2 separate regions of the Homo sapiens genome follow, and region 1 is linked to region 2. The links come from fine-mapping of genetic effects on gene expression. A gene starts in region 2. The other region holds a variant in brackets. All regions are shown on one strand. Distances are between the middles of the regions. Region 1 overlaps MYT1L (myelin transcription factor 1 like). Region 2 holds the start of PXDN (peroxidasin).

The links. PIP is the estimated chance that this variant, and not a neighbour inherited with it, causes the effect.
Region 1: its variant is fine-mapped to the expression of PXDN in caudate (GTEx, PIP above 0.99). The same link has a PIP of 0.9 or more in nucleus accumbens.

The regions. Positions count from the first base shown.
Region 1 is chr2:1,809,274-1,825,520 of GRCh38, reverse strand. The region is part of intron 21 of MYT1L (myelin transcription factor 1 like); the gene reads left to right. It overlaps LOC124905967 (a long non-coding RNA gene), which reads right to left and starts at 1,976. Exons shown (of 4, transcript XR_007086192.1): 1 at 1,892-1,976; 2 at 551-1,226. RefSeq lists an enhancer at 8,275-9,187. The variant T/C (reference allele first, on the strand shown) is at 7,999.
Region 2 is chr2:1,741,287-1,756,693 of GRCh38, reverse strand. It overlaps PXDN (peroxidasin), which reads left to right and starts at 12,179. Exons shown (of 23, transcript NM_012293.3): 1 at 12,179-12,438. The coding sequence starts at 12,239. It overlaps LOC124907724 (a long non-coding RNA gene), which reads right to left and starts at 5,967. Exons shown (of 2, transcript XR_007086189.1): 1 at 5,220-5,967; 2 at 2,740-3,922. RefSeq lists an enhancer at 4,914-5,414.

The sequences.
Region 1 (16,247 bases), 68 kb before region 2:
CTTTTGATTTCTCCAAATAATTTCTAATAAACATAATATTACTTGATTCTTAAGGGAAGAGTAAGTAGGTTTTCAGGAGTATGCCAACTTTTTAATGGAATTATGTTATAACATGTAAATTCTACCAATGTATCTGTTTTCTGTAACTGAACTAATTTCTGTCTCCTCCTCTACTGTATGGTGAGAGCTTGCTCGCCATAACTAGGTCGCTGTGGTGCCTCCCCCCCATCTTCATCCCAGGTGCACCTTTGGGGCAGGTGGCAGCTCCTGGGGGGCCCCTTTCCCTGCCAAAGCACCAGCCTCATGGGCAGCTCCTCCACCTTCCCGGCTCCCAGCCCTGAGGCCTCTCTGTGTCTGTCGCCATCAGGAAGGCAGGGGAGTGGCGTGTCTGAGGTCTCTTTCCCCAGCTCCATGTTGCTCTCAGGGGAAAGGGAGAAAGTCTGGCTCTCAGGCCACTCTCTGAGGACCCACAGGCATCCAAACCCCTTACTCCTCTCCCTCCTGTCCTCTCCCTTCTCTGTCTCCTCCCTGGAGATTCCTCCACCGCTACCTGATGGGGATGCATCCTTCCAAATCTATGGCTGCTGCCAGGAGTTCCTCCTATCTCTGGGATGTGTCATCCACAAAGCGAAGCCTTTGAAACGCAAATGCCTTTTTCTCTGATTTTCGCTTCTAACAGCTGTTCCTTGAAGCACCAAATGCTAGCCAAAATGGTGGTAAAATGCATAAGAAGAACAAATTATGCATCAGCCGGGATACTGCGGAGTCCTCCCCCTCTCTCTCCTCTGGATGACTCAATATGCATCAGCCGGGATACTGCGGAGTCCTCCTCCACTCTCTCCTCTCGACAACTCGCTGCACGGATCCATCCCTGAGTGCTGGTCAGTGCTCCCCAAAGGAGCCGCAGAGGGCGGCGTCCCGGCGCCACCCTCGCATGGCCTGGCCGGGGTGTCACAGGCTGGCCCCTGAGTTCTCACAGGGCCCAGGGCACAAACTTCAGGACGAGAGCAGCTCAAATGCAGAGGCCCATGCCCCTCTCCTCCCTGTGCTCAGCCTTCTCTGGGATCCGAGCTCTCCGTCCAGGCTGGCGCTGACGTCAGACATGTTCTGGCCTCTATCCTGCCAGCCTTCTCAGCACTCTGGGTTGGAGGGAACATTCCAGGAAGGCAGTATTTCCCAGAGGACAGAGCACCGCCCTGCTCTGCTGGGCACAAAATTACCTAACCCTAGAGAGACGTGGAGAAAATACCAAACTGAATCTACATTACAGATTGTTGGAAGAATTGGTTGGGGTCATGTATCTAAAATGCTTAATGCAGGCTCCTAAGCATAGGAATATGTTTAGTAAGTCTAGTCTGCTTTATTAGCTATTATTTAAATTTGTTCCATAGCAAGAATCACTCTCTGTTTAGAATCCAAACTAAAAACGTTCCCCAACCCCCATGGAGAGGGCTTGGCACGTTCCCTAAAAAGTCACTGAGCATCCCACATCACCTCTGCCCGGCGGCCCCGCTGGGGGGGGAGGCGCGGCCTCATCCCATGGGTCGTGCCAGGGACGGCGAGGCCCAGGCCAACACTGTGCCACGTAATGGTCACTGGACACCTGAGACTACTCAGCTCTTGAAGTTTGGCTCCTGTGACAGAGAACTTTTAAAAATTGTTAGATTTCAGTAAATATAAATGTAAATTTGACCACACGGGACGAGGGCCGCCACCACTGGCAGTGCAGGGCTGAACACGCCTCCAGCCACGGATCTTCCTACAGGGACCCAGCCTCATCGCTGCTCGTGCCAGGAGCCTGACCCACCTGCAGGGCTGAACATGCGGCCAGCCACGGGTCTTCCTACAGGCACTCAGCCTCATCGCTGCTCCTCCCAGGAGCACGACCCACCTGCAGGGCTGAACATGCAGCCAGCTGAGGGTCTTCCTGCAGGCACCCAGCCTCGTCACTGCTTCTCCCAGGAGCCTGACCCAAGCCCCGCCTGCAGCCTTCGCTTCCGTCCTGGGGGAGCTGCTCAGAGGCTGCCCTCCAGCGTCAACCACACCCACTCCAGCCCACTGCCTGCTCCCTCCTCCAGGACCCCGGAGCCGAAGCCCTGAGCCAGATAGGGTGGACCTGAGTGCCCCAAGTGGAGAGAAGGCTACAACTACAGCTGCCACAGCTATATCTATGACAATGAAGGTTGCAGCCACAACCACAGCAACAACAGCCTCACAGCCACAGCTCTGACAACAGCAGCAACAGCCCTCACTACCACAACCACCACGACTATAACAGCCAGCACCACCAGCTGGGTGCCCCTGCTGGGTCTGCCTGGGGAGGCCAAGCTGCCACAGGGCTGTGCAGCAGGACAGGTGTCTCCTCATTGAGGATCTTTTCCTCCCACGTGTCGATGCCATTTGAGGAGCTTAGGGCAAAAGCTCACATTTGCAGAAGAGTTATGGTTCACATGTTAAAAAGAAAACGAGGTGCAATAAGGTCCCTTTCACAGGTGTAGGGGCCAGGCCATCAACATATCCCTTCAGGAGACACAGCCAAGCCACAGCAGTGATAACGTTAACAACCGAGGCTCCTGAGAGGCAAGCAAAAGGAGAAACAAAACTAAACATTTCCCTTCTGCTAGGATTACACTCAGTCCTCAGCAGCAAGCAGCTGCTCCTGAGAAAGAGAAACCCTCCAGGAGAGGAGGGTTTCACTGTGGACACAGCAGCCCTGGTGAGGCAGTGGCTCCTTCACAGGAGAGGAGGGTTTCACCGTGGACACAGCAGCAGCCATGAGGCGGTGGCTTCTGACTGCCAGGGACCCAGATATCCGGGTCCTGCACCTCAGCCCCTGACACTCGGAGACCACCTCAGGGTGAGTTTGCTACCACAACAGCCATCCTGTCCCTGGAGGAAGGAAGGGGACCCTCTCGAAGGACACAGGCTGTAGGCCACACTTCTGCCTCCACCCTCAGATCCATGTGGTCCCAGGGCCAGCCCTCGCCATCCTGTGGCAGCCAAGTGCCTGCTGAGCACGCAGGAGCATCCCTGGGGAAGAGGGGCTGACAGTGGACACACCCTGCGCTCTCCAGGAAACAGACCCAACCCACACAAAGATGGCAGACACCTTGCAGAAAGGTGCACGTGTGTTCCTCAATACTGGGTTTATTAGGCATCTCTATTGGGAATCCTAGCCAAGCTCTGCAGACTGAAATCACATATATCTCCACTAAATCTTAAAACACTACTAAAATGACCCACTCTCCTCTTATAAACCCACAAATATAATGCAACTAAATAACTAAATAAGGAAGGGAAGTGCAGACCATCCCATCCACAAAGCACTGGGAGCCGCCCAGCCCAAGCACACATGGCTCAGGCCTCAGCTCCCTGCAGAGGAGCTGTTGGGGAGGGAGAGGATGGGGGTGGAGAGAAAGAGTGAAGAAAGAACCCAGAAAAAGAGGAGTGAAGAGCATGCAGAACCTCCATAGAAAAGAGGCTGGGACCTAGAGTGGGGATTCAGAGTTGGTCGGAAAACAGAGGAGTAGTTGAATTGTCTAAGAGGGGTTCGACTCCCGGATGCCCTGCCACAGGCCTCCTTCTCCCCGGCAGAAGGATAAGCTAGAACAGAAGCTCTGGAGCTAGTGCTAGGAAGAGCTGGAAACAGGATGAGCCGTTGTACTGAAGATGGGAACGTCAAGTGAGATGGACAGGCCCCAAGGCCTTGGTCCCGTGTGGCTCCGGGAATCCAGCGGCTCCTCCTGCTCCTCTGCCTTCTCCACTCCCCGCCACTCCAGACAGAGCAGGGGCCTCTTCTCTAGAACCAACAGATTCAAGATAAAGGGCCTCCAGGCACCAATGTCTGGGATGTATGCGTGAACAGCCAAGGACTCCGGCCACTGAAGGCAAGCAGTAAACAACATGGCAGAAACCAAGCAAACAAACCAGCCTTACCAGGGGGCAAAAGAAGCTCAGAGGAAGCAGAAACATTTCTGGAAAGAGGAGCAATCTTTTTAAAAACCTATAATTTGTCATCAGACAGAAAAGAACAGAAAGAACATTAAAATATATTGTATTCATAACCCAAGAAACATTCAGAGAACACGAATATCTATTTTAAAAAATAAATAAAAAGTTTACTTTGAAAGTTAAAATGTAAAATTGAGGTAATGTCCCATAAATTATAAAGAGATGAGAAAAGAAGATAAAAGATTTTGTTAAAAAAAAATAAAGAATTCAGGAGAGTTAGTAATCAACTAATAGGAGTTTCTGAAGAAGTAGCGAGAGTAGAGCAAATGGAAGAAAGAAAATTCCCAAAGAAAGAAAACAAGGAAAATCCCCATGGCAGAGATCTTGAGTTTTCAGATATAAAGGCCTCGTTGAGTAGCCACGCAATCATGAAATGGTTCTATGTCGTCCGGGGCTCTACCTGAGAAGCAGGACCAGTAGGATTTATATATGGACGGGTTCATCACAAGGAACTGGCTGACACCATCTGGGACCGGCTCCACAAGTCCAAAATCTGTAGGGCAGACAGGCAGCCTAGAAACTCTTGTTCAGGAGAAGTTCCATTCCACAGGGAGAATTTCTTCTTCCTCGGGGAAACCTTAGTTATATTCTTAAGGTCTTTTGACTGCTTGAGTCCGGCCCACTGAGAGTATTGAGAATAATCTCCTTACTTAAAGTCAGCTAGGCCAAGTGTGGTGGCTCACACCTGTAATCCCAGTATTTAGGGAGGAGGACGCAGGAGGATCACTTGAGCCCAAGAGTTTAAGACCAACCTGGGCAACATGGCAAGACATCATCTCTACAAAAAATTTAAAAATTAACCAGGCATGGTGGTACATGGCTGTGGTCATAGCTATTTGGGAGGCTGAGGAGTGAGAATTGCTTGAGCCCAAGAGTTGGAGGCTGCAGTGAGTATGATCATGCCACTGAACTCCAGCCTAGGTAACAACAGCAAAACCCTGTCTCAACAACAACAACAACAACAACAAAAAGCCAACTGATGGTAGATGTTAGTCACTCTACAAAATACCTTCGCAGCAACACTTAGATAAGTATTTGATTAAACAACTGGATGCTGTGTCCTCTCCATGTTGACATATAAAACTGTCATAGCCAACCACACAGAGGTTCATCATCATGAAATTTTGAGAACCTGGAGTGGGGATACAGAGAAAGAGAGGGACAAACAGAGACAAAGTGAGAGACAAAAGAAAAGGAAGCTAAGAGATGTACTCAACAGCAATGCTGGAAACAAGAATCAAATAGAACAATGCCTTCAAAACTCTTAGGAAAATGATTGCACACTCAGTATTCTATACTCAACCAAACTATCAATTTGGAATGCAAAAGCAGCAAGCCCCATCCAATGGGTGACCAAGCCCCAGCCCTTCTTACTCCTCTTGAGTGGGTGCTCTCTTCTGAACCCATTGCTGCCTCAGGCTGTACTCCCTCATTCCTCCCCCAGGCCCCTCTGCCAGCTTCCTCGCTGGCCCCCCCCCACTGCCCTCTGCCCTCTGCAAGCATCCTCCAGGCTGCTGCCAGTGAGCTCTCTACCAAGCAAACTCTACTGTGTGGTTGCCAGGATTACATGCTTCCAATCCTTTGTCATTGCCTAGAAGCTAAATCCATTCTCCTCTGTAAGGCACTTGAGATCTTCCCTAATAAGCTCTTACCCATCCCTCCAGCTCCCTGCCTCTCTGCCCCTTGGTTGCACCCAGACCTAAATTCAAAGCTGAAGACATGCTGCTCAGGCTTCTTTGGCCCTTCCACTGCTCCTTGTCCTCTTCAAACAAATGTCTGTCTTTAAATACCCATGCGGACTCCACCTCCCTCTGTAATGCTGCAGAGCATCACATCATCGGACCATGTGCATCCCTGTAGGGCATGTGTATTCACAGGGGCCTCTGCCCGAACTGCACTGGCAGGGCCCGAGTGTAGCATCTGTCACTCACGGGTGCATGGAGAGAGGCTGCAGGAGGAGGAGTGGAGGGTGAGGCTGGTGCTGGATGGCCTGGGTATAAACTCAGCCCTGCCTTTTCTGACTGTATGGTCTGGGGCAAGTTAGCTGTTCTGCGTCTCGATTCTCTCCTCTGTAAAATGGGATGGTCATAGATTGTTTGAGCAGTGGGCCAAGTCTGAAGAGCATGCCAGCATGTGATAAGTAAAGCATTTACAGCAGCTCACCACTGCTGTTAGCATTGTCATGACCCTCCTGTTAGGACTGTGCTTGAGGACAGGAGGTAAGTGTTGCTGATGAGTGAATAGAGATAGGACGTTTGATGACCTATGGAAGTGGCTCTTCAAAACGTCTCTTCTCAGGCCTTCTTCTCCTAACAGTGTTTTGATTGTCACTGCCGAATAGCAGTGGCTCCAGAATCCATCCCTTGGGCAGGAGGCAGGTGGACTCCCTGGGCTGCAGGAATGAGCTGTGTGGGTAGCTGCCATCCCTCAGGCTTTGAGAGGGACCTTTGTTTCCTGAGGCAGGTGGACATGCACCCCAGTGGGAGGGACCTGGTCTGGGAGCTGGGAGCTGGGGGCCATCTGGGTGGTCACACGGCCACCCACAGCTGCACTTTCTGCACCACCTGCCTGTGTGGCTGTGGCCGAGGCGTCCACCTGCCACAGAGGTCACTGTTCTAGAAACGCTTCCCTCTCTCCATGGTTTGAGAGCACCCTGTTTGGCACAGAATATTTTTAGGGGAAAAACCTCCAAATTCTGGATCTTGGCTTGAGAAGGGACCACGATGCCATTGCTTCCCACTGAGATGGAAGCAGATCTGATACACAGTCAGAGGCAGAAATGTCACGTGGCTCCAAGAACACCCTCCTGCCCTTCCTCACATATGCTGGGGCCAGAGTCCGGGAAGCGAACCACAGGAGAGCTGCTCTCGTGGCGACCGGGGCAAATGCAGGACAGGCTGTGGCTGCTGCACCAAATCCCTGTTTGCTTATTGAGGAGATGCTCCGTCATCATGAGTCAATCAGTGACAAGAATAGGATTAAAATACACAGTAACAGTGTACACCTGGAGTGTATTGTGTCTCATATAAATTACATATTATATAGTTAGAGTATTAAAATAGTAGCAGTGGAATAGGGAATAGTAAAATAAATAAAATGTTATTAGAGTGAAACTCACTGTGAAGGAAACTGTTTGCCCCTGGCTGTGTGGAGCTGATGTTCAGAGGATACTGAATCGCAGACAGCACCTGGCTGGGCTCTTCCCACCCGCAGCTCTTTGTCGTGAGTTCTCATCCTAGCACCTTCCAGCTGCAACAAAGCTTCTACACACACTCCCACCTCCTCTCAAATTACTTATTTTTCTTCCCAATCTGTGTGTCTTGTTAACCATATCCCCCTTCGAAAGTTTCACTTATTTAGTTATTTCCAACTGTAATGTTCTCCAGGAAAAGGCCCTTCTAGCTGATGTCCTGATAAAAAATGTCAGGGCCTCCCGGAGCTCGGTTTGAAGCCCTTCTAAAGCTTTCGCTGGAACCTTCATCTGGAATCCCTGGTGCTGACGCCTGGTGCCAGACGTCTGGGGCCTGGGGCAAGCGGGTGGAGCAGCCGCCTAACTACTTGCTGCCCGGAACCTCCCCGCACTGAAACTTGGTGACTTCCAAACCTACACTCAGCAGCACTTGACTTTAATTGGAGAAGCGTTTCTGTAACAGGCCGCTGGGTCTCAGGTTCAGAACTAACGTGTGAGTAAAATAGTAAGCACCCTCTTTATAATTTACACCCGGGACCAGCCGTGGGCTGACCTCCTTGGCTGAGCCAGGTGTGTGGACTTTCCCGAGAGCCCGGGACCAGCACCGCCCCCAGGCCACCGCTAGATGGCACTGTCACCGCACCAGGGCCGCCACCACCCCCCAGGGCCGCGCTGGGCCTGCTCCCAGGGTTCTCTTCCAAATTGGACCTGAGCTGGCAGTGCAGTCACCGGATTGGAATTGGCAGCACCGACACAGCCGCGTTTGGACAGAATGCATCATTCTTCAGGCCCGTCTT[T/C]GTTTCCTAATTTAGTTTCCCAAACTCTTGCTGAAGGCTCCTGCTCCTTAAATAACACCATTATTTGTCATTCCCAGCAGGCAGTTTTATTAACTGAGAGTGAAGAGAAGCAGCGTGAGACTGTGGGCAAAGCCGGTGCTGAACCGCAGTGTGGGTCCAGGAATGTGGACTCTGCAGTTTCCGGCCGTGTGGCGCCCCTATCCCCCCACCCATGGGGGACTTGCCTCCCTGCACCGGTGGCCTCTGCTTCCTGGAGCCGTCGGTCCTCTGGGTGGTTCTCTCCCATGCACTTAATTAACCGCACATAACTTAGTTCTGTTCCTTTATTTTCAAGGTAGGAGAAGCCAGGATGGGGAGATCCCTAATAGATATGACTAAATACACTTAATAAGGAACTTTGTAATCAAGTCATGAGAAAATGGGCCTTTTTGACATAAGAGTGGACAAGTACCCCAGTGCCCACCTCCCAGCAGGAGCCACCTTCTGACCACACTGCATGATTTCAGGAGCTGAGGCACCCATGGGGAGCTGAGGACAAGGTGGCCGTGTGCAGCCCCTCTGGAGCACGGCGTCTGCAGGGACCCCTGGGTGCTGCCGACAACAGGGGTCCACCCTGGGACGGAACCAACTGGCAGGACCCCGGGGTCCTCTCGTCTACCTCTCACCCTACAATGCAGGCCCCAGGCCCCCAGCCGGGCAGTGAGGCCCTGTGCATACACTGGGGCATAGGAACGGGACAGGGCCACCCCCTGGGGGGCCACAGCTGTCACTGTGCGCTCACTCAGTGGCCTTGAAAGAAGCGCCTGAAGCGAGAGAACATGGGTGACGGGGTTTCCCTGAAGTCAAGTCAAAGCAGCCAACGTGCACCATGTCCATCCTCATTTTATGCGCCTTCGTCTTGGCGTAGCCTCAGCAGCTGCTTTTGGCTGTGGCTTTTAAGCTGTGAAAGTATTTGCTGGGAATGTCCTTGGCTCCTCACGCAGCACCTCCTCCCCGTTAGGCTGGTTTCTCTGCTGGATCTAAAACAGGAGGGAGGAAGCATCGTGAGTGGCGTGGGGGGGCTTGAGCGGCTCCTCCCTCTCTCCTCTGGGGGTGCCCACCGGGGCCCAAAGCTTCTGGGAACCCGGCGGAGAGCTCTGCTCCTGAGCCAGGAATTGCCAGGCACCACACAACTGCTATCCGCGGGGCCTGTCCGGTTTCCCCAAGTGCTTCTGCTTCATTCGCTAATCCATACAGCGTAGCTCAGAATGATCGCTTGCCTTGGGTCCCCAAACACTACCTGAGCTGGAAAGTGCTTGTGTGATGTGTTAGTAATGGATAATACAAAATTTTTAACATGGGACTTTAAGCCATCAAAATTTCTGTTTTATTTCTTAACAACAACAACAAAAAGGCTGAATGTGGTGGTTCATACCTGTAATCCTAGCACTTTGGGAGGCTGAGGCAGGAGGGTCGCTTGAGATCAGGAGTTCGAGACCAGCCTGGGCAACATGGTGAGACCTAGTTTCTATTAAAATATTTTTAAAAGAAAAAAAAGAGATAACTGTGCCATGGGGCGTTCCATTGGTGATGAAGCGTGCTGATGCACAGGGAGCCACGGAGTTTCTCGGGGCGGTGCCGTGTGCCTCTCACCTGGATGCCTGGAGCCACTCCCCAGTCTAAGGGTTTGAATGCAGGAAAAGCCATCTATGGCTAAGAAGAGACAAAAAATAATTCTAAACTAGAAAAGATAAACTACAGGACAAAGGAGAGATGGGCCAGGCAGCCCTGGGACACTGGCCTGACCGACTGTCTGGTGCGGAGAGGCCGGGAGTTCTGGGGGCAGGGCATGGGGAAGGGGTGGCTGTTAGGATTCCATGGAGGTGTACCCAGGGGGGTGCTCCCCCACACTCTTCCCTCCTCAGAATCAGAGTGGGAAAGCAGCTCGGCCTCTCGGCCCCTCTTGCTTCCTGACAACTGAGAGGCAGGACACTGTCCTTCCTATTTTATTCACGCAACAGACATCCCTCTAGGGCCCGTGGTTTCCCAGGCAGGAACCGTGATTCTGAGTGGAGAGGGTGGAAAGGACACGGGGATGACCCTGCTGGGGTAGAGCTGACAGCATCATGAGGCAAGAGCCACTGAAGAAGCAAATGCACCCCCTCATGACGAGTGGGAGCAGGGAGGGACCCCAGCGACAGAGAGGATGGGGAAGGGGCCTGTTGATGCTGCTCAGCGAAGGTGGCAGAGACATCCGCACCAACACAGCCAGGCTCTGGGAGCTGCGTCACCAAGCCCAGCCGCAGAGGGGCCTCACCTCGGGCTCTCAACCATGTGCCCCAGAGAGCCAGGCCTGTGGCGGCCGGAGCTCACTGAGCTGATTCCACAGGACGGAACCTCACCTGTTCTCCCAGGCCTGGCTATCCTGACATCTGCCTTTCATGGTTCTGGTTTAATATCCTTTCTCTATATTCAACCTTCAAAATATCCCTATGAGGTGGGAAATTTTGTTTGCTTTTAAATTCCCATTTTACAAATGAAACACCCGAGCTTAGAAAGGTCACTAGAATAAGTCAGCAGCAGAAGCAGGACTTAGCAGAGAAAGTCTGACTTCCAAGCCTGTACTTCACTTCTCCCTGGAGCTCCTAGGTTGTAGGTAACAAGAATCCCCAAGAAGCAAGCCTGGAGCAGAGCCAGGGAAACGAGGTTCCACTCTCCACCCCACCACTAAGGAGCTGTTCGTTCATGGGTGAATGCTCTCCGCCAGGCCTGCACCTACCATTCTGCAAGCATTTAGTGCACTGTGGGAAAAAGAAAGTGAGACCTGCCCTAAAGAACTTAACTGAGCAGATCTTTAAAAATTCTGCGGCAAGACCCATAAAAGAGAAAGAGGCTGGGGAGCTCCGCACCCCCAGTGAGGTGGAGGCTGGGGGCAGTTTCTGCAAAAGCCGAATCCTAAAGGAAAAATCACTGACATGATGTCAGTCTGTTTCCATTTTCTATGCTGTGCATTTTTACTAAACATGTCCCATCTGCAAAGGCTCCTGGACACCGGGATACACATAGCAATGTGGTGGGCATTCCGAGGAACCACCCTCAGACCAGCAGAAGAGGAAAAGATAACCAAGGATGGGAACCGCCCATGTCCACGTCCCGGGAGGCTGCGCTCCAGGGCGCAGGGGATTCGAGGAAGGCAGCGCTGTGGTGGGCCAGAGCCTGGGCCTGGAGGGCCTCCTGGTGCAGGCCGGGCCCTGCTTTGTGGACAAAACAGTAAAGAGTTGGGAGGTCAGTTGGATGGGGACAGGGCGGGACAGCAAACTCAAGTGGGAGTGCCAGGGGCGTTCACCTAGCGGCAGAGAAGATCGCTGGCCTGGGGAATTCGTGAGTGGACAGCGGGAGGCAGCACGTGTGAGAAGAGCCCGTCGCAAAGGCCATCTAGGACAGCGGCCCCCAACCTTTTGGCACAAGGGACCGGTTTCATGGAAGCTAATTTTTCTTTCTTTTTTTTTTTTTTTTGGGGACGGAGTCTCGCTCTGTCGCCCAGGCTGGAGTGCAGTGGCGCGATCTCGGCTCACTGCAAGCTCCGCCTCCCGGGTTCGCGCCATTCTCCTGCCTCAGCCTCCCGAGTAGCTGGGACTACAGGCGCCCGCTACCACGCCCGGCTAATTTTTTGTATTTCTAGTACAGACGGGGTTTCACCGTGTTAGCCAGGATGGTCTCGATCTCCTGACCGCGTGATCCGCCCGCCTCGGCCTCCCAAAGTGCTGGGATTACAGGCGTGAGCCACCGCGCCCGGCCGGAAGCTAATTTTTCTACAGAAAAGGGGTGGGATGGTTTCTGGATGAAACCGTTCCACCTGGGATCACCAGGATTAACTTCTAAGGAGCCCGCAGCCCGGACCCCCTCGCAGGCGCAGTTCTCAGTAGCGTTTGCGCTCCTGGGAGAATCGAATCCCGCCGCTGACGTGTCGGGAGGCGGAGCTCAGGTGAGAATGCTCGCCCGCCCACTGCCCACCTCCACCTGTACGGCCCGGTTCCTCACAGGCCACGGCCGGGAGTTTGGGGACCCCTGCTCTAGGAAATATTCCAGCATCGGCAGCTGCTCTCAGAGAAGCTGCTGGAAGCTCTCCTGGGGGAGTGGGGGCAATCACAGCTGTGCCCCTGGGGCCATTTCTCAGCTGTGGGATGGAACGGATGGGACCCAGGCTGAGGCCCAGGGGCCTCGCTGAGGGAGAAAGAAGCACAGACCTGGACTGAAGTGATGAAGAGAAGGGAGGGGGTTCAGGCGCAAACAGCAGAGGCTGCTCGCTGGGAGGACGGCAAGGAGGAGGAGGCGTGCCTTTGTGGCCCTCCCTCTCTCCCCCCCACCTGCAGCTCCTGGCCCCTCAATGCCATTCGCAAACACAGGGAAAGTCGAAAGGGCTGCGGAGGTTCAGACGGCGGAAGGCCAGAGAGGTTCAGCGGGGGAAAGATGGGAGCTGCTCCCTGCATTTGTGAGGATCATACTGAGCCGGGCTGGGCCACACGCACCGTGGACCGACCAGGCGTCACCCTTGTCCTACAGTCACAGTCTTAGGACCTCTGCAGGAGGCCCTCACCCCAGCCCTCCTCTCATCTTAACCCAGGGCGGCAGCTGCATTCAAGAGTCTTTTTTTTTTTTTTTTTTTTTGAGACGGAGTCCTGCTCTGTCACCCAGGCTGGAGTGCAGCAGTGCGATCTCGGCTCACTGCAACCTCTGCCTCCCGGGTTCAAGAGATTCTCCTGCCTCAGCCTCCCAAGTAGCTGGGATTATAGGCACCTGCCACCACGCCCAGCTAATTTTTGTATTTTTAGTAGAGACAGGGTTTCACCATGTTGGCCAGGCTGGTCTGGAACTCCTGACCTCATGATCTGTCCGCCTCGGCCTCACAAAGTGCTAGGATTACAGGCATGAACCACCGCGCCCGGCTAAGAGTCTTCTCTTAACTTGGAAGTCCTGCAAAATCCTGCCGCAGGCCTCTTTGAGGGCTCAGTCTGCACCTTCCAGAGCCTGGGTGCACTCACACTCACCCTGGGCCTCCACTCACTGAGCCATCACAAAGTGCATTCAGACATTTTATGCTTTCAGAAGTCGTCACTGGGCACCTATTCCATCTCCAGCACTCTCCCATCATGGGGATACAGAGCAGTGAACAAAAAAGTGCATTTTAATCCTTGCCCTCAAGAATACACATTCTTTTCATTAAACTTCACAAACACAGTCAATTCAATATTTTATTCTCATTTCATAAGTGAGCAAACAGGACTGCCTAAGTCTTTCCTAGCCAGTTCCACGTCTTATGTGCGTTAGAGCATCAGGGGGTGCGGTGTGAGGTCCAGTGGGCCTCCTGGTCTCACAAAGGACTTGCCAGATGTAGTCACCTGACTGCAGAGTCTACCTGGATGCGGGGGCCAAAGCGCAGACACACCTGCAGGAAGATGTGTGTGACAGCCACAGTGTGTCCAGTGGCAGGAAGGGGAAAAGTGGCGTTAACATCCAAGCATCCTATTTTAGGAGAGCCTTAACAGATCTTTTGAGAACTTCTTATTTTACAAATGAAAATATCCAGCTCGCCTTCAGAAGCAGATTTACGGATAAGCTAGGGAAGCAGAAGTGTCAGCCCCCACCCCAGCCGGATTTGCAGGGCGTCCTGCTGGGATCTGATGGGGAGGCAGGAGAAGACCCAGGAGGGTGCCCCGGAGTGGGGACGACTGCCAGGTTGTTGCCCAGGCCCCATCAGGGAGGACTGAAGAGGAGCCTGTTCCCTCCGGAACGCGAGGGGTTCGTTCACGCCCCACACTAAAGACAGCTTGAGTAGCACAGGGATTTCCGGTGTAAACAGCAGCAGGCAGGGTGAGAGGATCCATCAGAAGCAGCAGTGCCAATGTCTAGTAACAAATAAATGAACAAAAAAACAGCAAAGGGAACCACGAGCCAGGACCCCCTCAGGGACTGTCCGGATTCCTGGGGATGCAGTCAGGGCAAGCAGGAGAAGCCAGGGCGCCCACCGTGCCCACCCTGTCAGGCCACCCAGTTCCCAGAGGCCTCTCTGCTCCTGGGGCTTCCCGTGCGGCTTGCCCTGGGATGGGATAGGACGCGGGAGCTGATGATGCTGGAGCTGATGACGCCAGAGCTGATGACGCCAGAGCTGATGATGCTGGAGCTGATGACGCTGGGGTTAAAGTCCCCGCTGCTCCTTCTCCCACTGAACCTAGGAACATCATCAGCAAACACAGCAGTTCACAGCCACAGAGTTGTGGTATGAGCAACAAATACTGGTGATTGTCTTAGACGTTCCAGGGCTGCAAAAACAAATACCATACCTTGGGCAGCATAGAAACCAGAAATTTATTCCTCCAAGTTCTGGAGACTGGAAGTCCGAGACCGAGGCACCAGCAGATTCGGCATCTGGCAACTGCTGCTCTCTGGTTGGTGGACGACGCCTTCTCACTCTGTCCTCACATGGGAGAAGGGGTTAAGGAGCTGTCTGGGTCCCTGTTATAAGGGCACGGATCCCATCACGAGGCCTCCTCACTTCCCATACGCCCCTTCTCCTAACACCATCCCGGTGGGGGTCAGGATTTCAGTGCACGAGTTTTCAGGGGACACAGTCAGGCAACAGCAATGATTATTTAGAATTTTATGAATATTCTATTATAATTATGAGATGCAAACATCACATCAAAAAAATAACAACTTAGACCTGTGGTGTGGATGAAGAATACTGGAAATATTTTTATACAAAGATAGGATTTCCCCAAAAACAACCACTAATATCCCCAGTTGAAAATGTATTACGATCAAGTTCTTCTGCTATGAATTTTCCTGTTTTCTTAAATTTTAAAAGAAAATGTATTACAAAAATAATATTTAGAAAGCTTAATTATATTAATGCAGATATTAGAGATATTTCTAATAATGATGTAATCTGCCTGCACTAGTAAAGAGTGTTTCTAGATATATCACTAACACATCATCACACCACTTACGGACACGGTCCATCTAACACTTCATATACAGGTGAAATACAATATTATGTATAGAGAGAATAAACACATATGTCATATACATATATAAAACATTATAGGCGGGGTGCGGTGGCTCATGCCTGTAATCCTAGCACTTTGGGAGGCCAAGGCGGGCAGATCACCTGAGGTCAGGAGTTGAAGACCAGCCTGGCCAATATGGTGAAACCCTGTCTCTACTAAAAATACAAAAATTAGCCAGGTGTGGTGGCACACACCTGTAATCCCAGAGGCTATAATTCTGTAATCGGGAGGCTGAGGCGGGAGAATCACTGGAACCCAGGAGGCAGAGGCTGCAGTGAGCCGACATCGGGCCACTGCACTCCAGCCTGGGTGACAGAGCAAGACCCTCTCAAAAAAAAAAAAAAAAAGCGTTATATATAGAAGTTTTTCACCTCACCCATAGTTAAGTGCCAGATGGCCCCTGGCCTTTAGCACAGTGAGGACTCCAGTTGACCAGCACGTCCAGGAGCCCCTGGAAGGGAGGGAAGGCCCCTCGGAGACTGAGGAGTTGTGAGGAAGCCGAGGCACGGGACTGCATGGAAGAGGCGCTCCGCACACAGGACACGCCATCTTCAGCAAACACCCAACAGGACAGAAAAGGAGGCAGAGGTGCCTTCCTGCCCCGGAGGCTGCCAGCCACATCTGCCACATACACTGTGAAGAGCTGAGACGCATCCTGACGTCGACAAACCAGTGGCTGAGAAAAGTGAAGAGACACCTGGAAAGTTTGAAAACAGACTGAATAGCTGCTGATACTAGAAAACTGGCTAAAAATTGTAAGTGAGATAAGGAGATTGCAGTTATGTTTTCACCTTTGAGACTGGGGAAGCAGGAGGGGCACAGGTGACTAGCCTTGAGAGATAACAGCTGAATTTGGGGTGAGTTCATTATTCTGCTGTCTCTACTTTTGTATATTTGAAATTAACTTTTAAACCCAACCTTTCTATGAGCTTGATGCTTTCCATAATAAAGATTTTTAAGCAATATTATCACTCTACAAAAGTTCCAAAAAGCTCTGAAAGTTATACAATGAAGGGCAGATTTCCTCTGCTCTCAGAGCCCCAGCTCCCAAGACCCCCCGCCAAGAGGCAGCCCCAGCCGAGCACCCATGATCAGTGCTCACCACATGCATGAGTGCACACACATGCACCCCATGTGTGCATAACTGTCATACTGTATGCATTGGTCTTTTTGCTTTTTCTCATTTTCAGACAGCCTTTTGCT
Region 2 (15,407 bases):
GCTCCAAGTGAAGAACCCACAAGGCCTCCCAGGCTGAACTCCAGTTTTGGGGGCCTGCGACGTTGGGACTAGCAGCATCCATGGTGCCTGGGCACCCGCCAGCCATGCACATCCTTCCTGAATCAGACATGGCGGGTGGAGCCTCATCCAGGGCTTCACAGGCCCTCAGCTGGCTTTGATGCTTCCCAAGCCCAGGCTGACAACCTCCTGTTTACAAGTCTCTGTTCCTCCTCAAGAAGCCATATTTCACCTCCACAACCAGCCCCTGCTGAGCACAGCGACAGACTTCCAGCAGCCACACAGTGGATGTAAGACTATGTGACATTTTATGTAGAAAACCAATTAGGCTTTGAGGGAGCAGTATGACAGATCACGAATGGAGTTTGAATAAGTACTAATTAAATCCACAAAAAAACAAACTTAATAATAATGGAAATATCTGCTCCAAGCATCCAAAGCCTTAGTTCTTCTCTCTGTGGGGAAGCTCCATCATCATCCATTTACTCCACAGAGACTAATATTTATCAACCCCAGGGCACCCAGAGCCAGCATTGCTCTCCTGTCTCACTGCAACTTTCCTGCCCGTCTACGCAGTCGATCCTCATTTATCTAGCAGCCTGCGGTCAGCAGCCTGCGGTCACTCCTGCTCTTTCCGGCTGGAATTTCTCAGGAAGTTTCTTTTAGCTGAGCCATCTATAAAGTCGACTCTCATTTATCTAGCAGCCTGCGGTCACTCCTGCGCTTTCCAGCTGGAATTTCTCAGGAAGTTTCTTTTAGCTGAGACATGCTCTGCTTTGTTCTCTGTGCTTAGCACACACACAGCCAGGCATGGCGGAATTCTCCCCTGGCACCCAGAGGGCAGAGGCACACTGATCTCATCACCAGCACTGAGCTCTATTGTTTTGAGGTCCTTTTTATTGGAAAAGGAAGGAGAAAGGGGCTGGGAGGAGAAGAGCACGAGGCACCCCGCTAGGGAGACTCCTGCCCAGCGAGGCACCCGCCCAGTGTGTTAGGGGAGGCTGCTGCACCCCTATCGCCTATGGGAGAGATGCCAGCAGGTGAGACTACATTTCGGAAACCACACCTGCTTACCTATCATCTATGCACAGGAGGCCGGCCCTCTCCTGGAATGGCAGCAGGGAAGGAGCAGAACCAGACAACTCTGCCCAATAAGCATGCATTTCCTGTTTTTGCCTGGAGGGCTGTGGAGACAAGAGCTTTAGGTGCCCAGGGTAGGGGACGAAGGAGCCTTGGGAGCACCAGTTCTGAATACTGGAAGACCCCAGAGAGGACAGTCTATGTGCCAGGATGGGGTGGGTGAGATGTTCCCTGCAGTGGGGAAGACTTAGGGTACTTACAAAGAGAGAAAATTTCCTGTGATTTTGAGATAATGGCAGCTCCATGCTAACTGTGGTCCCCGTCACCCTCATATCCTCAGTAAAGATGGGACCCCTTGTTAAGTGGGGGGCTGAATGATGTGGGCACCGTGCGAACAGGAGAGAAGGATCCAGAGGTAACTGGTGCCAGGGGTGCATCCGACTCCTGGGTCCCGCCACCTCCTGGAAATGTCTGGGGACAGGGGGTGCTGAAGAGGTGGAGCGTTTCATTTGGATATAATAAGGAGGGTGACCTGGAGGCTGGGGACCCAGGAGTGTGGGGAGCACAAGAAAAAAAAGAAAAACCATCGTGCAAAGGAATGTGGGCACATGGGCAGCGTGGGCTTTGCTGGAAGGTAGCTGTGCGAGCGGGCACTCCCCTTGTGCCTGCACCTACTGAGGTGCTCTTTCTAGGTGGCTCTGGAGGCCCACAGAACCTGGGGTGGGCTCCATTGAACAGACAGGGAGACCAAGACACAAAGAGCAGAAGCGCCTGCCAAAGACCACATGGCAGAGCTGGGCCCAGAGCCTCTGTCAGCCCTTCCTGCCTCTGCCCCAGGGCAGCAAGCCCCATGAGCCCTCCTGGCCACTGCCTCGTGAATCCACACATTGCATATTTCAGAGCCTGTGTTCCAGGGAACGCACTGGGTGGGGGCCATGGGGTGCATCAGATGCCTGCTCCAGCAGGGCCCACAGTCCAGGGGGGACGCCCCCACCAGCCAGCATGGCAGGAGCTGTCCAGCCACTCACTAACCCGTCAGTTCCCCATCAGCACATTACCTCGTGGTTACCAGCACCTACGCTGATAAAAATCATCAGATCGAACAGTCCAGGTGGGGAGACGGCTGTGTGTGTGAGCAGGTAAGGCACTCAGTGCCGTGATGGTGAGGAAGGGACGGAGACATCATGACGGGCACGGAGGAAGACCAGCTTTCCCCGCAGGTGGGCCAGTGCATGGGAGCCTTCAAAGGACCTGAGGTTACAGCTGAGTCTTGCACGAGGAGGGCTAAGTGCTGGGCATTTGGGGCAACAGTGAGTCCTGGGCCCCAGCAGTTACTTCCGCAGGAGTGGGGAGGCCGGCTGGGGAGGTGGGAGTTGGGAAGATCTGGAGGGCAAGTGATGAACACTGCACAGAGAACCTGGGATGCTGGGTCCTCGGCTGCCCTAACATGGCAGACACTTCACACATGGAAACGCTGGGCTCAGAGCAAGCAGGCATCCCGGGGAGGGGGCGTGGCCTGGGCTGGAGACCCTGGTTCCATTTCACTCCCCTGCTGCCGTCGTGGGGGCTTACTCAGCCCATCTGTGTCTCATGTTCCTCTTCTGCGTAAACAAAACAGTAATTCATTTTCAAGGTTCATGATTGTTGTGAAGATTGAGACAATGATTTTTATTAATTTATTTTATAATTTTTATAGCTTTAACAAACTTTTAATTTTGAAATGATTGCATACTCACAGGAAGCTACAGACACAGAGTGCTTCCCTGCTGTTCACCAGCTTACTTTATCACAGGTGAACCCCCAAATCGGGGCTCATCCCGGGAGGTCACATGGGTTCTTAGTGTCATGCAGGAAGGAATTCAAGAGTGAGAGGACAGGCTGGGCACAGTGGCTCACGCCTGTAATCCCAGCACTTTGGGAGGCCGAGGCAGGTGGATTGCTTGAGGTCAGGATTTTGAGACCAGCCTGGCCAACATGGTGAAATCCCATCTCTACTAAAAATACAAAGATTAGCTGGACGTGGTGGTGCACATCTGTAATCCCAGCTACTCGGGAGGCTGAGGCAGGAGAATCGCTGGAACCCGGGAGGTGGAGGTTGCAGTGAGCTGAGTTCATGCCACTGCACTCCAGCCTGGTGACAGGGCGAGACTCTGTCTCAAAAAAAAAAAAAGAGCAAGAGGACAGAGTGAAATCAGGTTAATCAAGAAAGTAAAGAAATAAATGGGTGGTTACCGCACAGGAATAAAAGGGTGGCTATTTTTATGGTTATTTCTTGATTATATGCCGAACAACAGGTGGATTATTCATGAGTTTTCTGGGAAAAAGGCAGGGAATTCCCCAAGAACTGAGAATTCCTCCCCACTTCAGACCCCATAGGGTAACTTCCAGACGTTGCCATGGCGTCTGTAAACTGTCTTGGTGCTGCCAGGCACGTCATTGAGCATATGCAAATGCATTATGATTAGTGTATAATGAACAGAGGTTTCTTTTGCCACCATCTTGGTTTTGGCTGGCTTCTCTCCCACATCCTGTTTTATGAGCAGGGTCTTTGTGATGTGTCTCTTGTGAAACCTGCCCTGTGACTTCCTAGCTCACCTTCAGTGACAACATTTCACCCGGCCTACAGGGCATGTGCAAGAAGAATGCGCCACAGCTCAGAGCCTGGGGCCAGACACGCATGAGCTCTGGTGTAACACCTGCCTGAGAATCCTGGTGATGGATGCTCTGCTTGCTGTCTCTGTGTCGCTGCCCAGGGCTGCAGAGCCAGTGCACAGATGCGGCCATTCACTTAATGTGGTCATCCAAGCAGCTTCTATCCACGTGGCTTTAAAAACATTTTTTAAATATATATGTTTTATCTTTGTAAAGACAAGGTCTCACTACGTTGCCCAGGCTGGTCTCAAGCTCCAGGACTCAAGTGATTCTCCCATCTTGGTCTCCCAAAATGCTGAGATGACAGGTGTGAGCCGTCACGCTTGGCCTAAGTGTCTTGCATTTAAGACTGTGTTTCCACCTAACTGTGAGTTTCTCAGGGTCTCTGCCCTTCCTTGTCTGTTTTCATTGCCCGCTCACTTCCCTGGAAGCTGGCTGGGTGCTGTGCTCACGCTGGATTTTCCAGGTCCAGTCTCTGCCCTTCCTTGCCTCACCTGTCCTGGGGAACCAACCTCTAATAGGGAATTGCCCAGTCCCCGTTACCGCCTGGCTTCCTCCTGGGTGACCAGGGGATGGCATCAGCCTCAGTGGCTCCACATGCCCTCCCTGCCCTCCCAGCCATCCACCTGCAGCCATGGCCCCTGGCAGCCCCTCCTGCAGTTATAAATCTAGCTAGGTGAGGCTCACACGTTCCTCCCCCCGCCTTCCATGGCCTCCGAGGGTGGGGGCATGGTGGAGATGCTTGGTTGCTTCCCTAACTGCCTCACCTCTCAGTCGCCCAATTAAACTCCCTCCACTGTAACCCTGAAACCCTCTCGGTGCTTCCCCCTCCTGCAGAGGCCTTGGCTAGCCCCAGCGCGGCTCATGGAAGGCAGGAAGCAGACCCTCTCCCCGAGGGTGGACAGAGGGTCGCCCACCTCCGCACACAGCGTGCCAAGGGCCTGGGCTGGGGAGGCCTCTGTCTACACCCAGGACCCCTGTTGGGGAGGGGGTTATTAGCGGGACCCCTCTCCCAGACATGAGCCTTCCACCCTCTGACTTCATCACCTAGGCATGCAGAAAGCCCCTGTTGGCGCCTATCTGAGAAAAATGTGGAATCTAAGTGTGCGGCTTAATTTACATAAAGATCCCATGGGGGAGGAGCAGTGAAGATGTGACTCTCACAAGGTGAGGACCCTCAGGACCCCTCTTCTCTCCACTCCTGGGCATGTCCCGGGTGCCTGACCCGGTGCTCTGGCGGATGGAGGGACCTTTGGACAGAGAAGTGGTGACTCTCCATGCTTAGCATTTAAATTCTAGAATCTCATCTTTCTGTGGCTGAACTGAACACAGTAAATTGTGTTCTGAGCCTGCAGCTGCCTCTCACCGTGGGTCTGCCAGGAGCCTGGTGCCCTGCCCGGCTGTCCTTTGCTGTGGTTGAGCTGACACTGACCGGGAACTCACTGGGAACATGGCTCTGACCCACTCACCTGAGCCTTGTGACATCCAGCAAGGGGGACAAGCCTTTTCCATACGACCTCGGGCCCCAGCATGAGCACCCAGGAGAAGATCTCAGCGCAGCTCCTGCTGTGAGCTGGTCTTCAGACAGCCGCCGCCATGGTCTTCACGGGCCTGCTGTCCTGGCACCCTGCCTGGCATGCTGTAGCACACAGGGCAGTGTGTGCAGAGAAGGGGGCCCGGGACCAAGTGTCTCTTCACTCACTGCGTCTAAGTACTATGTGTGACAACGAAACAGTGTTCCTTGGCACAACTCACACCTGGAAGGAGTGTTTGCTGTGGGACAGATCACAAGACTGGGGGCGGATAACAGGATTGGAAAGTGGCCATCAGAGGGGGTGAGAGTATTTCACCTGGGCCCGGAGAACATGAAGCTTAAGCTGTTGTGCTCCTGCTCAGACAATTCACCCGCAGACGCCGGGCTGGGGAGGTGCGAGGCTTCTGTGGGCCTCTAGAGGGCAGACGCAGGAAGCCGTGAACAAAACACACGGCTGCACATTCAGCTCCACAGGGGAAGAGCTCACCACCAAAACCTCATTCTTTCAGGCCCAAGTCATTGCACTGACCACCCCCTGCCCAGACTCCCCTGCCAATGCCACACACATGCAAACGAATGCTATGCCACTCGGGGGTCTTCAGGGACACATAGGATGGGGTCCATAGGATGGATCCGTGGATGGGGATGGGGAGAAGGGAGGGAAGGAGGGAAGGGATTGGGGGAAGAAGGAGGAAAGAAGAGAAGGGAGGGAGGGAGGGAGGGGGGGAGGGGGGGGAGGGAGGGAGGGGGGGGAGGGAGGGAGGGAGGGGGGAGGGAGGGAGGGAGGGAGGGAGGGAGGGGGGAGGGAGGGAGGGAGGGAGGGAGGGGGGAGGGAGGGAGGGAGGGAGGGGGGGAGGGAGGGGGGGAGGGAGGGAGGGAGGGAGGGGGGAGGAGAAGAATGAACGAAGGAGGGAAAGAAGGAGGGAGGGATGAATGGATGCAAGGATGAGTACATGTATGAATAGGTGAGTTGATGGGTGGATGGATACATTGATTGATGGATAGATTTTTTAAATCGGCTCAAGTGATTGTGGGGCCAGCAGGTCTGAAATCAGGAGCTGAAGCTGCAGCCTTGAGGCAAAATTTCTCCTTTTCTGGGAAACCTCAGGTTTTGCTCTCAATGCCTCCACCTGCTTAGACAGGGCTCACTCACATCATCAAAGGTCACCTCCTCCACCTAAGGTCAACTGATGATAGAGATTAACCACAACCGCAATACCTTCAGAGCAATGTCTAGATGAGTGTGGCCACGTGGACATATAAAAGCAATCACCACAGGTGACTTGGGAGATGCCTGTTGAACTGGAAAGAAAAGCCACCAATTCGTGATGCCCTGAAATGCTCCTGTGGGTGGCAGCAGGTGGGGAGTGTGGATGTCAGGTACAGGCCGCCGTGTCTGAGCGAGGGTGGACTACACACTAGGGAGCCTCTGGGCCACTGGGTGACACTCTGAGAAGTGTCACTTGAAGGTGGCACCAGCGCACTTGGAAGGCATTGAGTATCTGCAGTCACAGGGCCCCTCCTCACGATGGAATGTCCATACCCAGCACTTCCCCTGGAGTTCTGTTGAGATGCTGAAATGACCTCATAATCATTATTATGATGTTTCTGATGATTTCTAAACTTGAGCAAACTTAAAGCAGAGAATGCAGAGGTCTTTTCCAGATGTTTCTAGTCTTTGTCACCCACCCCAGCGAATGTCAGGGCAAACTCAGAACTGCAAGGCTGCCCAAGAGTCCACCTGATCATCTGGGGCTGGGCAGTAATGCACGCAGTGTAGCACATGGTACACTTGTTTTCACCCAACAATGACTGTTCTAGTCCATCCCCGAGGGCTCTTGGCCTTGACAGGGAGCTAGGCATGGAAACCTTGTCCTGGGGCTGTGTGGGGTGGGCTGTAGCACTAGAAGGATATTCACACTGGGAAGACGGTGGGAACCAGGGCCTGGAGGGGTGCACAGAGGGAGCCACCCAACTGAGCAGATTCTAGAAGGTTCAGTAGCAGTTTGCCAGGAAATAAAGTTGAAATAAGTTGATGTCTGGTGTTTGTGGAGAGAAGGGGCTGGAAGAACAGACGCAAAGCCACCGGAGATGGTGGCCCCAAGCCCACCCCATTAGGCAGGGGGCTGAGAGGTGCTTGCATACAGCGGTGGCAGGGTCCGAGCTGCGGCACATTCTCTGTGAGCTTCATTCTCTGTGATGAGCCAGGCAGACCCAAAGGCACATGCCCAGGAGGGGTCTCAGTGGTGGTCCAGGGGCCAGAGCTCTGCCAACAGCCATGTGGAAGGAACAGTGCTCAGCACAAGGAATTAACAGGATCCTGTGACTGCTGTATTTAAGGATGGGGTAGGGATTGAGGTGAGAATGACCTCCAGGTTGGCGGAGGATTGCATTAGAGATTCTGGAGAAAAAGCGCATTTTTTATGGAGAGCGATGTTCTAGTTTCTGACATCATAACATTGGAATTCTTGTGGGACATCGAGGTGGAGATGTCTGGAAAGCATCTGGAAGTGAGTACGGAGCCCCAGAGCGTGCTGCGGGTAGATGTGTGACTCCTTAGTACCTAGGACACCTGGATGGCTTGGAAAGGGTCCCTAGATGACCAAAAAGGTAATTACGCCTTGTGAGCGGGGTGCTTGCTTAAAACGGCAGACACAGCAGCGGGTGCCACTTTCCTAAACACGAGTATCCATGTAAAGCTTGTGTGTTTGAGAAGGAATTGGGTCTTTTCCTCAGGTTCCCGGGACAGAGCTTCCAAAGCCCTTGGAATTTCCCCAGGGACAGGAGCGTGTGTATTCATGATGAGCTCCCAGCCATGTCTGAGCTGACGCTGATGAAGGAACACAGGATGGAGGCTGATCACTAGGACTGACCATGCGATTGTAGGGTGAAGTGTTTGGGCCTTGTGCTGTCAGCCTGACCTCCCTGGAGAGTTCAACCCCATGGACAGTGTGTCATCAGTCCTGCTTGAGCCATAAAACCCTGGTGAAAACTCTGGACACCAAAGCTCAGTAGAGCTTCCCTGTTGGTGATCATGTCCCTGTGCCGGGTGGTGATGGGCCCTGATCCCACAGGCCAGGCACAGAGGCTCTGCATTTGGGACCCTCCCTGACCTCACCTGATGTATTTCATTTGGAGGTTCAGATTGGTATCAATTATAATACAGCTGTATTTGTAACCACAGCACTTTCATCTGTTGTGTGGGTGGTTCCAGCAGGAGATGGAGCTGGAGGGGGTCTCAGAAACCTATGAATCTGTAACCAGTCAGAAGTGTGGATGGCCTGGGGACCACTGGACACACAGGTAGTATTAAAGTGAGGGCAGCCTTACTGAGGTCCATCCACATCTGTAACCTGCGGGGTCTGCTCTAGCTCCAGGTACTTAACAGCAGGACTGTACTGAAGTCTGCCTAGGACTCTGTCTCCTCCTCTGCTGAATATAATGTTTGCAGCTCCCACCCAGCATTCTGCCATTATGGAAATACAGAAGAAGCATTCTCACAAGCATCCCTGTTCTACACAAACTCAAGAGTGACACGTGGTAGGCAGCCTCTAAGATGGTCCCCAGTGGTTCTGTCTCATGTTCCTTACGCTCCCAGTTGATGCTCTGCTGTGGCATGTGCTGGACGCAAGAGCATCTGTGGATGGAATCCAGCAGGAGAGATGGCGTCCAGTGTGAGCTGGAACAACAGGAGGGTGTGGAGAGGATCCAGGAGGAGTGATGGCATCTGCATCTGGACCCACTGGTGTGTGTGCACAGGATCCTGCGGGGTGATGGCTGAACCCACTGGCGTGTGTGCACAGGATCCTGCGGGGTGATGGCTGAACTCACTGGAGTGTGTGCACAGGATCCTGCAGGGGTGATGGCACCCGGAGTCTAATCTGAACCCACTGGAGTGTGTGCACAGGATCCCGCAGGGGCGATGGCACCCGGAGTCTGAAATGAATCCTCTGGAGTGCGTGGACAGGACCCTGCAGGGGTGATGGCATCGGAATCTGAACTAAACCCACTCGAATGTGTGCGCAGGATCCCGCAGGGGCGATGGCACCCGGAGTCTAATCTGAACCCACTGGAGAGTGTGCGCAGGATCCCGCAGGGGCGATGGCATATGGAGTTTCAGCTGGACCTACTCGAGTGTGTGGATAGAATCTTGCAGGAGAGACGACATGTAGAATGTAAACTGGACTGAGTGGAGTGTATGGAGAGAATCCTGCAGGTGAGATGGCGTGTGCAGTGGGAAGCGGACCCACTGGAATCTTTGGGTGGGACCCAAACTCAACCACTGCTATGTGTAGACAGGATCTTTGAGGAGAGATGGCATCTGCAGTGTGAACCGAACCCACTGGAGTGTATGGATAGCATCTTGCAGGAGTGATGACATCTGCAGTGTGATCTGGACTGCCTCGAGTGTGTGGGTAGGATCCTGCAAGAGTGATGGCATGTGGAGTGAGCACTGCATCCACAGGACTGTGTGGACAGCAGCCTTCAGCAGTGATGATGTCTGCTGTGTGAAGTGGAGCACTGTAGTGTGTGGGTAGGGTCCTGCAGGAGAGATGGCAACTGGAGTGTGAACTGCACCCACTTGAGTGAGAGGTTGGGATGCTGCAGGTGGATGGCATTTGGAGTGTGAACTGGACCCACTTGAGTGTATGGGTAGGGTCCTGCAGGAGAGATGGCAACTGGAGTGTGAACTGGACCCACTGTTGTGCCTGGAGAGGATCCTGCAGAAGACAAGGCATCTGCAGTGTAAACTGGGCCACTGGGGTGTGTAGCTAGAATCATGCTGGAGTAACGGCTTCTGGACTGTGAGCTGGCCCCATTAAAGTGTGTGTATAGGATCCTGCAAAAGTGATAGCCTCTGGAGTGTGAATGGGACCCACTGAGGTGTGTGGATAGGATACTGCAGGGGTGATGGTGTCTGCAGTGTGAGCTGCAGCCCTGGGGCATGTGGATAGGACTCTGCAAAGAGACAGCATCTGTGGTGTGAATGGCACCGGTGGAATGTGTAGAGAGGATCCTGCAAAAGTGATGTCCTCTAGAGTGTGAACTGGACCCACTGGAGGGTGTGGACATCGTCCTGCAGGAGAGATGGCATCTAGAGTGTGAATGGCACCTCCGGAGTGTGTGGATAGGAGCCCGCAGGAGAGAGCACATGTAGAGCGTGAACTGGACCCACTGAAATGTGTGGACAGGATTCTGCAGAAGATACGGCATCCGGAGTGTGAAATGCACCACTAGTGTGTGTGCATAGAATCCTGCATAAGTTTTGGCATCTACAGTGTGAACTGGAGTCACTGGAATGTGTGAATAGGATCTTGCAGGAGAGATGTCTGCAGTGTGAGCTGGACCCACTTCTGTGTGTGGATAGTATCCTGCAGGAGAGATGTTGTCTGCAGTGTGAGCTGGGCCCACCGGAGTGTGTGAATAGGATCCTGCAGGAGAAATGGAATCCGGAGTGTGAGCTGCATCCGCTGTAGAGGGTGGATAAAATCCTGCAGGAAAGATGGCATCTGGAATGTCAGCGGGAGCCACCGACCTCTGAGGATGCACCCCGCAGGTGTGATGCGGGGCCAGTTCCAAGGCTGGGTTAGGTTTTACCCTGGCTTCTGTGTTGTACTCTCATTCTCTTCCTCTTTCTTCTAATACCTGCTCTGGGAGGCATCAGGCCATGTCCAGTGTGCAGGCCATGGAGACCCACACGGCAAGGAACTGGAACCCCCTGCCAGCAGCCTCGGGGGTCCAGTCCTTAGATGGTGCCCTGTGGTCAGCAATGCACCTGTGACCTCCGGGCTATGTCTCGTGGTAGTTGCTTTTGTGTTTTAACATAGCAACAGGAAACTAGCCTATTACCCACCAATCCCATTCCAGGCTGCTTTCAAACGCAGCTCAGGCTAGAACACCAGCACGGGGACACAGCTGAGACTTGGGGTTTGCGACGGGAACACGCCCATGCTGTGCCTCTGAATCTGGCACCGTCACCCTGTGGCCTGGGTTCAGCAACTTGGCCTCACCTTCCTTGTCTGTGAAATTCAGACTGGGTCCTTGTGAGATGATTGGAGAGAATGTATGAACTATGTGAGAACGCCACCTTTGTGCGTATCTCACGCAGTGTCTTCCCTCCTTTCCAAAGTCTTCTGCTGTCTCTAGACACACCCGACGTGGGGGGGGGGGGTTCCCTGGGTCTCCTCCTAGGTCTGTCCCAGGAGGGCACGCACTGAAGGCCGCGAGAATCCCGGGGGCTGCATTGCGCCGCGCCAAGGACTCCACACAGGACCTTTCATTTTCCCAACTGTGCTGAGCCAGGCGGCCGGCAGAGAGCAGGTGGCTGACAGGCCCCGGGGAGCCGGACCGCCTGGGTCTAATCTTCCCGCAGACTCCCTTGCTGTGCGCTTTGGGGCTTGGGCCTCAGTTTCCTCAAAAGGAATGAGGGGCTTTTTTGGAACGTTAAATAATTTCCTACGTGGTTGCGGGTAGGGAGAAGGAGAAAGAGAGGAGCGCGCCTGCGCGCCTGGAATCGTGCCCGGATCAGAGCAAGCGCTCTAAAAGTGTTACAAACATTAAGGCGCCAACTAAAAAACCCGTAGTGAGCGCAGGCAGAAACCACGGGTAAGAGAAGTGGAGAAGCTTCGCGTAGGCCCCAGGGTCCCGAGCCCCGAGTCTCGAGCGCAGAATCAGGGGTGCCAATGCTCTCCTCCGCGCCCCCGAGCGCTCGCCTTGGCCATGCGGGCCGCCCCACCGGGATGAGGGCGCTCAGGCCGGACGCTGGGGCCCCGGGTTCTCGCCCCGCCCCGCCCTCGGGGATTCAGAGGGGCCGGGAGGAGCCTCGCGCATGTGCACAGCTGGCGCCCCCCGCCCCCCGCGCACAGCTGGGACGTGGGCCGCGGCCGGGCGGGCGCAGTCGGGAGCCGGCCGTGGTGGCTCCGTGCGTCCGAGCGTCCGTCCGCGCCGTCGGCCATGGCCAAGCGCTCCAGGGGCCCCGGGCGCCGCTGCCTGTTGGCGCTCGTGCTGTTCTGCGCCTGGGGGACGCTGGCCGTGGTGGCCCAGAAGCCGGGCGCAGGGTGTCCGAGCCGCTGCCTGTGCTTCCGCACCACCGTGCGCTGCATGCATCTGCTGCTGGAGGCCGTGCCCGCCGTGGCGCCGCAGACCTCCATCCTGTGAGTGCCGCGGGGGACGCCGGGGGCGCGGGGTCCGGGGCTTCGTGGAGATCCGGGAGCGCAGGGGTGATCGGAGGTGGGGGGCGCGGAGGGTGGAGGGGGCATCGGGCGCGCGGGGGGCCTGGGGACTTGGGACGCAGAAGGGAACCTCCGAAGGGGGACGTGGGGGGACCTGGGCGCGGGGACCCGCTGGGCCTTTGTTCGCCCTGCGGGAGACGCCGAGGGGCGGAACAGAGCGCTGTGCGCGCGGCCTTCGTAGCCGCCTTTGTTCGGAACTCGGAATCCCCGCAGGACTGGGAAGTTGTTGGAGCCTCCGGGGCTCCCCCCGCTCGCCTCCCGCCGCCCCCTCTCATGCTCCGCCGGCCTCCCGCTTCCCCCTGGTTCGCGGCCCCTCCTCCGCTCACCTTTCCCCCGCTCAGGACCCCTCGGTCCCCCTCCGCTCCCCGAGCGCGGCGCAGCCCCCTCCGTCCTCCCAGCCCCCTCCGCCCCGTTCCTCGTCCTGTTCGCTCCCCTCCTCCGCTCCTCTTCCTCCTCCCCTTCCTCCTCCTCCTCCCCTTCCTCCTCCTCCTCCCCTTCCTCCTCCTCCTCCCTTCCCCTCCTCCTCCCCCCCTTCCTTCTCCTCCCCCAGCCTCCGCCCTCTCCCCCTCCCCCGCCCCTTGGAGCGCAGTGCCCACCCCATCCCCCCGCGCCGGGGAAGCCTCCCCAGAGGAGCCTCAGTTCCCGCAGCCGCGGCGCCCCCGCTCCCAGTGCCCCCGCATCTGCCCGGAGCGTCCTCTCCTGGGGTGTCCTGGGGGCCCCGCGCTTCTCAGGGGCTTTTCCTGCGCCCGGAGCGAGCCGGGCGGCCGGGGTTCCCGAGAGGGGCCGCGCGGTAGTCTCGGGGCAGCCCGGGTCTAGATGGAGCCGGGACTCAGAGCGGGTTTCTGCCTCGGGCATTTCTCTTCTTTCGCTTCTAATCCACGCGAGCGTGTTCGCAGTTGCGCTATACGTTTAACCGGATGCGTTGCGTTGGGGTTGACACCCTGTCCTGCGGGCCGTCCCGCGTCACGGTCTCCACAGCAGGAATCCCCATCCCTCCGCCCCGCGGCTCCAGGTACCGAGATGCCGCCAGAGTTCGCTGCAGGCCTCCTGTGTTCTGAAGCGAGTCGGATTCAACATTTTCGGGATCTGTGAACGCGGGCTGCGTTTCAGGCGCCGACTCTAATTTAGTCCTGTAGCGACTTTTCTGCATGCCAAAAATAGTTTTCACGTTTCTTAGCTGAGCCAGAGGACTTTTTGGCACCAGCAAAGAGTCTGCAAAAGTTGTAAAAAAATTGAGTGAACAATTCAGGAAGTGGGCGGCCAGTGCGCCTACCTCCGAAACAAAGTGCTGGGACAGACCACGGCTCCCAGGGGTCGCCGAGTTTGCAGGCTGCTTCCTGGAGGCCCTGGGGCGGGGCGGGGGCCCGAGTTCCTCTCCTCCTCCGCAGAGAGACCAAGGCTTTCTTTCCAGAGCCCGTGAATGGTCAGCCCAGGCCGGACGACTCGGGGGCATCTCACTCAACAGCAGTGGACTTTTAGAATGGAGCCGGGTGAGGTTTCCCTGGGTCTGGATAATGTAATTCTTGCTGAGCCAGTGGAAAAATGGCACCTCAAAGATTTTTCCCATCTGGTCAGTTTCATAAAGCTTGCGGTATGTTTTGCCCCGGAATATTAATTGCTTGTTGAAAATAACATGTTAAAATAAGTGTCGTAGGACACACATGGGGTCCTCTGCTCCGCTTTGCATGGTGTGCTCGTCCACAAACGCCTCACCGAATTTGAAAAAGGAGCTGAGAGTAGACGGGTGACATCATCGTCCACTCGCACAACACTTCCTCATAGGGTACATTTGCATCCATTTCTATCTTAAACTTTCAGGGGTTTTTGCAGTCTTCAGTGATACTTCGAAATGTCGCTGTTGAGTCACGTTGATTCTGTGAGGCAGGTAGACTGGTAGCTGTTAAGTTGATCGAATCCCTTATAGAACTAAACACTTTACTGGAGAAATGAACATACCCATTTTCTGGCGGTGGAAACAGAAGCTCTGGGAGAGAAGCGCAGCTCCTGACGCTATTCCTGTGGCCAAGAGGAGGAGCGTAGCGCTGGTGGCCAGAATGGAGTCCTGGCTGGATGCATTGCAGCCGCGTGATTTTTAGCAAGTCCCGTGTCTCCTGGGAGAACGTGAGGGTGTAGCTGTGCGGACCTAGGCACAGTGGACAGGTGTCATGAGCGAGCGCTAGTGAGTGCAGCCTGGGGAGGCAGGGACTGAGGGAAGAGGGAGACCTATTCTGCGGGGATATCCTGTTGAGGGGTCTCTGGGGGCATGGTCTGGTAGGCTGTTGCTTGAGATGACACAGTTCTACATGATACATGCTACACGTGAAGCAACATTTCATGTCCACTTTCGGCTTTCTCCCAGGACTGTGCTCTCATGTATATGTGATTATTTTCTATTACAATTTTTTGGTAGAAATTGGGAATATACTATATATGAAAATTTAAAAAAAAACCTGCCCCAAAGTTAGTTGGCTCATCCAACCATCACACCGTCCCTTTGCTTTTAGAGACTCACCTCCATCCCAGTCCCCCAAAAGATTAAATCAGAGCCATTGGAAAACATCTTATTGCTCCTTCCCCTCAAATGCTCCAGGAGTGTGTTTAAGCGGGTCTGATACTGGGTTGTTTGATTTGTGGCTTGGGGGCTTTGGAAAACAGTGGAATAAGCCCATCCATGACTCAGTTTGGATCGACCTTTGAGCTCCCTCAGCTGCAAGTGTGAAGGGAGCTCTGGAATGGCAGGAGCCCGCGCCCTGTGCTGCTCGGTCGGCGGTTTGGCCTTGCTGTTGGGTCTCCTGCAGAGCGCCTCCCCTCTGGAGGCCTTACTTAGTTCAGCTGTGTAGAAATGGTTGGTTTTTGAATACAGAATCATTCTGTACCCAACACAATAGAAG